Homo sapiens: one gene and its partners. The protein of the gene in region 2 interacts with the protein of the main gene of each other region in a biochemical or structural test. Each region holds a gene or a part of one and is shown on either strand. Other genes may lie near its edges.

Region 1 (3,657 bases), on a different chromosome or scaffold from region 2:
TGACAGAAGACAGACACCATTACATTCAAAGTCAGATTGTCTTTTATTTATTTATTTATTTATTTATTTATTTGAGACAGGGTCTTGCTCTATCACCTACAGATGGGGTTTCACCACGTTGGGTCTGGTGACCCAAATCTTTGGGTGATTTTTCTGCTGGAAGAGGACAAACACCATTACATTCAAAGTCAGATTTTCTGTTTTTTTTTTTTTTTTGTTTTTGTTTTTTTAATATTCATTTGTTTATTCATTTGAGACTGGGTCTTGCTCTGTCACGCAGGCTGGAGTGCAACCTCCCTGGGCTCAGTTGATCTTCCCTCAGCCTCTTGAGTAGCTGGGACTACAGGTGTGTGCCACCATGCCCAGCTAGTGTTTGTATTTTTTGTGGAGATGGTGTTTTGCCGCATTGCCCAGTGTGGTCTTGAACTAGTGCTCAAGAGGCCTGCCTCCTTCAACCTCTCAAAGTGTTAGGATTACAGATGTGAACTACTGTGCCTGATCCAAAGTCAGATTTTCTTTGCTTACTTAGTCAAGTTCGTCTATGCTTTTATTATACTTAATATATTAGTATAGTTACTGTATTAGTATATTAGCATATTTAATATATTATTATACTTATCATACTTGAGTATATTGAGTATATTTACACTTTTAGTATATTTGTATACACACACCACATTTTTATTATTTATCTTTTTTTTGAGACAGAGTCTCCCTCTGTCTCCCAGGCTGAAGCACAGTTGGCTCACTGCAACCTCTGCCTCTTGGGCTCAAGTGATTCTCGTGCCTCACCCTCCTGAGTAGCAGGGATTACAGGTGTCCACCACCAAGCCTGGCTAATTTTTGTATTTTTAGTGGATATGGGGTTTTACCATGTTGGCCAGGCTGGTCTCGAACTCCTGACCTCAAATGATCTGCCCGCCTTGGCCTCCCAAAGTGCTGGAATTACTGGCGTGAGCCACTGCACCCAGCCTATTATCTGTCTTTTGATGGACATTTAAGTTGTCTCTATATACTAGCTATTGTGAATAATGCTGCAGTGAACATGAGAGTGCTTGAAAACACTAATGTAACATAAAGGTAACAAATAATAAATGTCATGTGTTTATCTTGAAAGGAACTGAAATACGACGTTGGTGGAGGAGAACGGTTTGATTCTTTGACAGATCTTGTGGAACATTATAAGAAGAATCCTATGGTGGAAACATTGGGTACAGTACTACAACTCAAGCAGGTGAGCAGATTGGAAAGCTCAAGCTTTCTCCTTAAAAACTTAAAACAAATCCTAATAGAGAATTTTGCAAACATACAGAGGTAGACAGAATAGTATCATCAGCCTCCATGTACCCATTGCAGCTTCAACTATCAAATCTTTTTTTTTTTTTTTTTTTTTGAGACAGTCTTACTCTGTCACCCAGTCTGGAGTACAGTGTTGCAATCTTGGCTCACTACAACCTCTGCTTCCTGGGTTCAAGCGATTCTCCTGCCTCAGCCTCCTGAGTAGCTGGGACTACAGGTGCCCACCACCATGCCCGGCTAGTTTTTGTGTTTTTAATAGAGATGGGGTTTCACCATGTTGGCCTGGCTGGTCTTGAATTCCCGACCTCAGGTTTTCTGCCCGCCTTGGCCTCCCGAAGTTTTGGGATTACAGGCGTGAGCTACCACGCCCGGCCCTAAATCTTTTCTTATTATGATTCCACTCACTGACTGCCGCTATAGTACTTGGAAACATATTCCAGATTTATATTATTCCCATATTTATCTGTAAAAGGCATTACAGAGGTTCTTTTTTTTTTTTTTTTTTTTTGAGATGGAGTTTTGCTCTGTCGCCCAGGCTGGAGTGCAGTGGCGTGTTCTTGGCTCACTGCAACCTCTGCGTCCCGGGTTCAAGAGCTTCTCCTGCCTCAGCCTCCTGAGTAGCTGGGATTATAGGTGGTGCCACTACACCCAGCTAATTTTTGTATTTTTAGTAGAGATGGGGTTTCACCATGTTAGCCAGGCTGGTCTTGAACTCCTGACCTCAAGTGATCTGCCTGCCTCAGCCTCTCAAAGTGCTGGGATTATAGGCATGAGCCACTGCATCTGGCCTAAGGCTGTACAGAGTTTTAAAGCAAGTTTTCATTATAGATCCACTTCTGGTTACCTTTAGGTAACCTCACTTATTCACTTTGGCATTGTTGCTATTTCAAATTTCACCTTTATGATAGTGGAAAATGATATAATCTCTCTAAATAATGTGGTCTATTCATAAAGAAAAATAGGCTTGAATTTATATCAGCAGAGTAAAGTGTATGTGAAGACTGAAGAAAGATACATTTTCTGGCTGAACAGAAAACACGGTGAAACGATTTGAAAACTTTTATTGTGAATTACAGGGTCCTATGAACCCTCTGTCCGTGCCTTTATGAATATCAACATAGACATGTTTTTTTTTTTTTTTTTGCATTAACACCGTTTTCTGTAATATTTTCTTTATTTTACATCAACTGCTGTACTCGATCAGCCCCTTAACACGACTCGTATAAATGCTGCTGAAATAGAAAGCAGAGTTCGAGAACTAAGCAAATTAGCTGAGACCACAGATAAAGTCAAACAAGGCTTTTGGGAAGAATTTGAGGTAAGTTATTAAAAAACTGTTTTTACGTGAGTTGTTATATCCTATTTTTAGTGGAGGAGAAGTTGCTCTTGTGTTTGGAATTGGACCTGAGAGACTTGAAACTGACGTCCTTTTTTAATTCGGCCATTGATTGACACGGAGCAAGTTGCTGAGAGGGCTTCTTCGAAACAGAAGAGCATTGTGTTCTGAGGGAAGGGAGTTGGCAGTGAGTAGTCAATGGATGTGCTAGCCGCTCCATTTGGCTCTTTTGGTTTGGACTGGTGGCAAAATCTCAGAGAAACAAAAGGATCTAATTTCTTCGAAAGATTTCCAGCATGCACTGGGGTCTTTAGAAACAATCTATAGCCTTAGTGCAGCAAATGAGTATGAGTAAAAGAGAAACACCTTGTGGTGGCTTTTTTTTTTTTTTTTTTGAGACAGGGTCTCGCTCTGTCGCCGAAGCTGGAGTGTAGTGGCGTGATCTCGGTTTACTGCAGCCCCGTCCTCCCTGGGCTCAAGTGATCTTCCCATCTCAGCCTACTGAGTAGCTGGGACTACAGGCACATGCCCCTATGCCTGGCTAATTTTTGTATTTTTGGTAGAGATGAGGTTTTGCAGTGTTGCCCAGGCTGGTCTTGAACTCTTGGGCTCAAGTGATCCTCCTACTTAAGCTTCCCGAGTAGCTGGGACTACAGGCACACGATACCATGCCCATCTAATTTTTGTATTTTTTTGTAGAGATGGGGTTTTGCAGTGTTGCCCAGGCTGGTCTTGAACTCTTGGGCTCAAGTGATCCTCCAGCTTTGACGTGCCAAATGTGGTGGCTTTAATTTCAGAGTTCAAATTGATAACTCTGGTAAGTTAAGTGAACTGATTTCTTTTTTTTTTAAATTATTTTTGTTGATTATACTTTAAGTTCTGGGATATATGTGCAGAACGTGCAGGTTTGTACATAGGTATACATGTGCCATCATGGTTTGCTGCACACATTAACCCATCATTTAGGTTTTAAGTCCTGCATGCATTAGGTGTTTGTCCTAATGCTCTCCCTCCCCTTTAAT
Region 2 (2,784 bases):
GTATTTTTTGTACAGACAGGGCTTCGCCATGTTGCCCCGGCTGGTCTCAAACTCCTGAGTTCAAGTGATCCTCCTGCCTTGGCTTCCCAAAGTGCTGGGTTTACAGGCATATGAGCCACCACACCCGGCACAAACTGGTTTTGAATATGAACGGAATAAAGATTTTCAAGGAAAACAAATTTTCATTTAGTATTCAGAACTCATCTTTAAAGTCTTCCATGTGATTTTCAACCATGATAGGCAAATATGGGCTTTAAAAAGAAGGAAGAGGAAAGTGACCAGTGGTTCTGAGCCCTTGTTTTAAAAAGTCAATCACAGGTAAGTGAGCAAATGGACAAGAGATTTAAGTAATTTTCAAAGTTGGGGCATTTGCTATTTTATCAGTGTCTCAGAAGGCTGTCCAAAGGCTATAGATTTAAACAAATAACATGGAGTCCTCGAGATACTGGCATTTCCATTTTTAAGGGTAAACATCTGAAAATGATGATGTTCAAATTAAGAGTCTGGTAGCAGTTTACAGTTACATATGGAGTCGAAAGAAAGAAAATACCATCTCTGTTCTTACGTACAGATTATTTATTGTAAAAATGTAAGCAATTACAAATTGATCTGTTGTGAAATCAGTGCTGAATTAACATTAATGTAACTCCAGTGAAAAAAATGAATTTGATCAATTATTATCAGGAATAAACATTAAGCCATGACGGTGCTCAAGTTATCTTCTGATGACACTGCTGTATTAAATGTACTTTTCCTATGAGAACCTTAGAAAAATAAAAATTTCTGAGTAGATCATCTTTATCTTTTCTTTTTATATATTTATAGCCATATTTTAATATAATAGGCCATGAGGTGATATGTAAACATACATAATTTCAACAAATTTTGTCAAATAAAATCATATTTCTAGCTAGAAACTTGCCTTCTAATCATTTTAAATGAATAATCCAATCATCCGTCAAAACAAATTTTTTTTTTAAATGACTGTTAAATCCTAACCTTCATTTTCCCCTGGGGAAATAGCATTAAAATTGTTACACAATCTGCTATAGAAAGTGGGATTCTCTATTTTGAAGCCACTAGCTTGCATTTGCACATCTAGCACAGGAGAATCTTCATCCAGTGATGAGCGGGTTACACGGATGAACGCTAAGCTTCGCTGCACAGGTGCAGGGCCCCGGCCTCACAGATTTGCCTTCTCCCTTGCCGCCAAGTGAGATCCGGACTGCACAAAGGTGTGAATCGCATTCTGTTTTAAAAGAACAAGATGAGCAGGTTAATCACCTCATGGGCAGCAACGTGATATTTACTCAGTTTTAATATGTATGCAAATGAAAATAATAATTCAGAATTCATTCACTTTAACTGTCTTAAATTGCCCAGCGCTAAAATGAAGAGTATGTGTTTTGCCAGTGAATTCTTTATCTCTCAAATGAATTTCTGCACAGCTGCCTAAGAAATCTAACAGTGGCAGGTAATGGCCCCTGCAGACTGTAATGCTAAGTGGTAACTAAGTCATGCCTACTCCAACCCAGCACACACAGCCTCTGCATGGCCAGGCTGCTCCCAGCTTACCTTAGGCTTCTCAGCATTGTACTTGTCCAGAAGAGCCTGGATGTGGCTCCCGTAGTCAGGGTGGACCTCAGTGAAGTTCTTGACCTAAGGCCAAAGGAAAATAAATGCAAGCATTACTCTAACTCCCTACTATATCACTCCCCAGGGACTGTGGTTTCCCAGTGTTTATTCCATAGGGGAGGAAAGACGTTTCAGCAGGAGGCAGTACTACAGGTGTTTAACAATGCCAGCCTCAGAGTTAAGATGCAGGTCCAGTGAACACTCTGACATATACTGGCTGAGCAACCTCGGATAGGTCACTTAACTTACTGAGCTTATGTCCCTCTGCCGAAATGCGCAAGAAAATGACACCTAATCAGTATAATTTTAAAAATACTATTTGGTCTTTGTCCCCCATTCCTGACACAGATCTAAAACCCTTCGAATGTACTGTCTTTTATATACTACTAAGATGATTCATGGGGGCCTACATAGATTCCTGATGGAGGCTCACACCAGGAAGAACAAGCACGCGATCAGAAGGTTAGAACTTCTAGCCCCACCCCCAAACCTCCAGGGATGGGAGAGGGGCTGGAGATTGTATTCAATCACCCATAGCCAATAATTTCATCAATCATGCCTATGTCATAAAACCTCCAGAAAAACCCACAACTGGCAAGGTCAGGGAGTGTCTGGATTAGTGCACACATCCAGGAGCTAGAAGGGTGGTCCACTCAGGGAGGCACAGAAGCTCCGAGGCCTTCCCCCATGCCCCTCTTCCATTTGTCTATTCCTGAGTTGTATTCTTTATAATAAATTGGTAATCATAAGTAAATCATTTTCCTGAGTTCTATGAGTCTTTCCAGCAAATTATCAAACCTGAGGAAAGGGTTTGATTTGCAGTCAGAATCTGCAGAAGTGTGCATAGCCAGGGTACCTCATTTGTTATCTAAAGTGGGAAATGACCCCTAAATCTTTGGGTTCTGACTCTAGCTCCAGGAGCTACTGTTAGAATTGAATTGAGTTATAGGACACACAGTTACTGTCAAAGAATTACAGAATTGCTTATTGTCGGGGAAAAAAACCCATACAACCTAGGCCAGGCGCAGTGGCTCACGCCCGAAATCCCAGCACTTTGGGAGGCCAAGATGGGTGGATCACCTGAGGTCAGTAGTTCAAGACCAGCCTGGTTAACATGGCAAAACCCCATCTCTACTAAAAACACAAAAA
Region 3 (3,657 bases), on a different chromosome or scaffold from region 2:
AACAACTAGAAATAAATATTGGTATTGCTGAAATATTTAATAGTACAAAAAGAGGAACAATCATAGTTCTTTGTCACTCTACTTATCCATCTTCTTAAAAAATCACAAGTGAGGCTGGGCACAAAGGCTCACGCCTGTAACTCCAGCACTTTGGGAGGCCAAGGTGGGCGGATCACCTGAGGTCAGAGGTTCAAGACCAGCCTGGACAACATAGTGAAACCCTGTCTCTACTAAAAATACAAAAATCAGCCAGGCTTGGTGGCGCAGCACCTGTAATCCCAGCTACTTGGGAGGCTGAAGCACGAGAATTGCTGGAACCTGGGAGGCGGAGGTTGTGGTGAGCTGAGATTGCGCCACTGCACTCCAGCCTGGGTGACAGAGCGAAACTCCATATCAAAAAAAAAAAAAAAAAAATCCCAAGCGAATCAAGGGTAGACCTCAACAGAGTCAGAGCTGAAAGGAGCACAATGTATTTATATTAGAGACAGATTCTTTGATACCAAAGTTGAATTGAGAGAACAAACAGACTGAGAAAATGTGGAGTGAGATCTTTGCCTCCAAGTTGGGTTGGTGCTACAGCAGGGGTCGCCAACCTCTGGCTGTGGACCGGTACCAGTCCGTGACCTGTTAGCACAGCAGGAGGTAAGCAACAGGCTAGGGAGCATTTCAGCCTTGACCTCCGCCTCCTGTCGGATCAGTGGTGGTATTAGACTCTCACAGGAGCGCGAACCCTATTGTGAACTGCGCATGTGAGGGATCTAGGTTGCATGCTCCTTCTGAGAATTTAATGCCTGATGATCTGAGGTAGAACAGTTTCATCCCAAAACCATCATCCCCCAATCCGTGAAAAATTGTATTCCGTGAAACTGGTCCCTGGTGCCAAAAGGTTGGAGACCACTGTGCTAGACAGCTGGGCAAGGGTTAAGAAAGTTGATGCTTTTACACAAAAAGGCAAATATCATATGTTCTCACTCATATGTGGGAGCTTAAAATGTAGATCTCATAATGATACAGGGTAGATTGGTGGTTGCCAAAGGCCAGGAAGGGGAGGGGGGGATGGGAGATGAAGGGAAAAAAAAGGATATAAATATATTTATTACTACTGAACTGTATACTTACAAATCGTAAAGATGGTTAAAAAAAAAGAAAAAAGAAAGAAAAATCAGAATAAGGGCTATAGACTAAATAATAGTTCTTTATATTAATTGCCCTGTTTTTTAAAATAAATTATACTGTGGTCATGTATGAGAATATTAATTTTAGGAAATACACATAAGTCTGTAACTTTTTCTTAGGGTTCAGAAAAGAGAGAGGGAAATAAAACAAATATAGTAAAACGTTAACATTTGGAGGATCTGGATAAAAAGTATATGAGAATTTTTTGTACTATTATAACTTTCCTGCATGTCTTTAATTATGATTAAAAAAACTTAAATATAAGAAAAAAAGAAAAGAAAGAAAGTTGATGCTTTTAGTAAACTATGGACCCTCTCCCCAGAAGATTGTACCTAAGCTGGTGCAAAGAATGCTTCACTTACCATCTCAAGGGATTTAAAATCCACCAAAGACCGTTCTTGAGCCGAGACTAAGAGCAAGTGAAGCTTAGGAAAGTGGCCCAGAGAAGCCAATCAGGGAGCTAGCATCTGAGGAAGGAAGATATTTTGTTTGGGAAAATTCCAGAGGGAAAAAAAGTAAGGAAGCCATGGTTTCAGGGTTAAGATGGATTTGAGGATAGTGGTTTTGAACAGGTGAAGTGAATGGATCGGGGGACGGAAAGACAGAGACTTGATTGCAAATACCCAGCTATGAGAGTGACAGGCCACACCTTGAAATGTGGTACAAATCATCATCATCAGGAAATCCAGGAATGAGAGATTCATACAGGGAAGAGGTAGCATAGAATAAAAAATGCTAGGCCAGGAATGGTGGCTCACACCTGTAATCTCAGAAATTTGGGACGCTAAGGCAGGTGGATCACTTGAGGCCAGGAGTTCGAGACCAGCCTGACCAACATGGCGAAGCCCTGTCTCTACTAAAAATACAAAAATTATCTGGGCATGGTGGCAGTAGTCACAGCTACTCAGGAGGCTGAGGAAAGAGAATCACTTGAACCTGGGAGGTGGAGGTTGCAGTGAACCGAGATTGAGCCACTCCACTCCTGCCTGGGTGACAGAACAAGACTCTGTCTCAAAAAAAAAAAAAAAAAAAAAAAAAAGAATAAAACATTCCCAGTCTGGAGTCAGACCTAGGGTCAGACTTTCACCCTACTCGTGTTTAGCTCACCATTGAGAAGGCTGGCGTCTCTAGGCCTCTCATGTTAAAGAAGAGAGCTCATGGGGTGGTGTGAGAATTAGCTTAGCTAACACAAGTAATGTGTCTTACGTGAAACCTAGCATCCGGTAGCCCTAAGCAAATGGTAGCACATTACATGAGCAGATTTGGAGGATTCCATTCATTACCCCATGGTCTTACCAACAACACCAACTGAGGAGACAGGCCGCGCTGATGCTGTTTTCCACGATGCTCCGGAGGGAGTTGACCACTTATTTGCTTTCCTTTCAGCGAAGAAAGCATATTGCAGGGCTCTAGCCTGCCCTGATTGCAAAAGATATAGAAACAGCTCCTCCTCCTTCTTGATGCCCACTTCATAGGGATACTGCACAGCAGCCTGGACTGCACGGACACAAGCCTCCTGTGCAAGACACCCAGGGTGCTGCCTCCGCATCTTCAAGAGGGCCTCACTAAAAATGCTGTCCATGTTGGGCAAGCTCTGAATTGGCTTGTTGCAGAGTCTACGGGATTCTAGAGGTTGATCTGAAAGGAATAAGAAGGATCAGAGCTTTGGAAATGTTACTTGTACAAAGGGAATGTGAATATATAGTAATAACAATAACCTGTTCAAATTCAAAGCACAAACTAAAAGCTATTCATTAAGACATTTAATGTACACTAAACATATGTACACTAACATCTCTGATATCTTTGCAACACAGTCCTACAAGATAGAATTTAGTAGACTCAAAGCAATTTTAGGTTACCTAGTTTAGGCATAAAAGTTGTATTTTCTTTTTAATCCAAGACCAAGACAATTTTATAATAGATTAATGATTAATTAATTAAATTAATCAATAGATTAATATTTAATCTGTAATTAATATTAATATATTAAATATTAATGAGTCTAAGGAAAACGGTTCTGAGTTAATATTTTATTTATTAATTTTTAAAAATTATTTCAGCTTTTATTTTAGATTGAGGGCATACATGTGCAGGTTTGTTACATGGGTATATCACACGATGCTGAGGCTTGGGATATGAATAATCCTGCCACCCCAGTAGTGAGCATAGTACCCAGAAGTTGGTTTTTCAACCTTTGCCATCCTCCCTCCCTTCCCCTGTAGTAGAGACTCTAGTGTCTATTATTGAGTGAATATTTTAGATTCAAAATAACCTTAACTCCGTTCCTAATAGTAACAAAAACTTTAAAATACCTAGAAAAGGAGACAGCGTGGTATTGATGCAAGGATAGGTATATATATCAATGGAAGAGAATCGAGAGTTCACAAATAAACTCTTACAATTATAGCCAATGATTTTCAACATAGGTGTCCAAACAATTCAATGGAAGAAAGGAGAGTCTCTTTTTTTCACATTCAG

The links.
Region 1: the proteins of CAT (region 2) and PTPN11 form a complex in vitro, tested with the Homo sapiens proteins (one study listed by IntAct).
Region 3: the proteins of CAT (region 2) and EHHADH form a complex in vitro, tested with the Homo sapiens proteins (one study listed by BioGRID).

Annotation. Positions count from the first base shown.
Region 1 is NC_000012.12:112,453,447-112,457,103, forward strand, and holds part of PTPN11 (tyrosine-protein phosphatase non-receptor type 11), read left to right. Parts: intron 1-1,117; coding exon 1,118-1,234; intron 1,235-2,503; coding exon 2,504-2,617; intron 2,618-3,657. UniProt on the Homo sapiens protein: Acts downstream of various receptor and cytoplasmic protein tyrosine kinases to participate in the signal transduction from the cell surface to the nucleus. Positively regulates MAPK signal transduction pathway. Dephosphorylates GAB1, ARHGAP35 and EGFR.
Region 2 is NC_000011.10:34,469,833-34,472,616, reverse strand, and holds the end of CAT (catalase), read right to left. Parts: intron 1,660-2,784; coding exon 1,576-1,659; intron 1,250-1,575; coding exon 1,184-1,249; 3' UTR 557-1,183; downstream 1-556. UniProt on the Homo sapiens protein: Catalyzes the degradation of hydrogen peroxide (H(2)O(2)) generated by peroxisomal oxidases to water and oxygen, thereby protecting cells from the toxic effects of hydrogen peroxide.
Region 3 is NC_000003.12:185,201,944-185,205,600, forward strand, and holds part of EHHADH (peroxisomal bifunctional enzyme), read right to left. Parts: intron 2,815-3,657; coding exon 2,473-2,814; intron 1-2,472. UniProt on the Homo sapiens protein: Peroxisomal trifunctional enzyme possessing 2-enoyl-CoA hydratase, 3-hydroxyacyl-CoA dehydrogenase, and delta 3, delta 2-enoyl-CoA isomerase activities. Catalyzes two of the four reactions of the long chain fatty acids peroxisomal beta-oxidation pathway.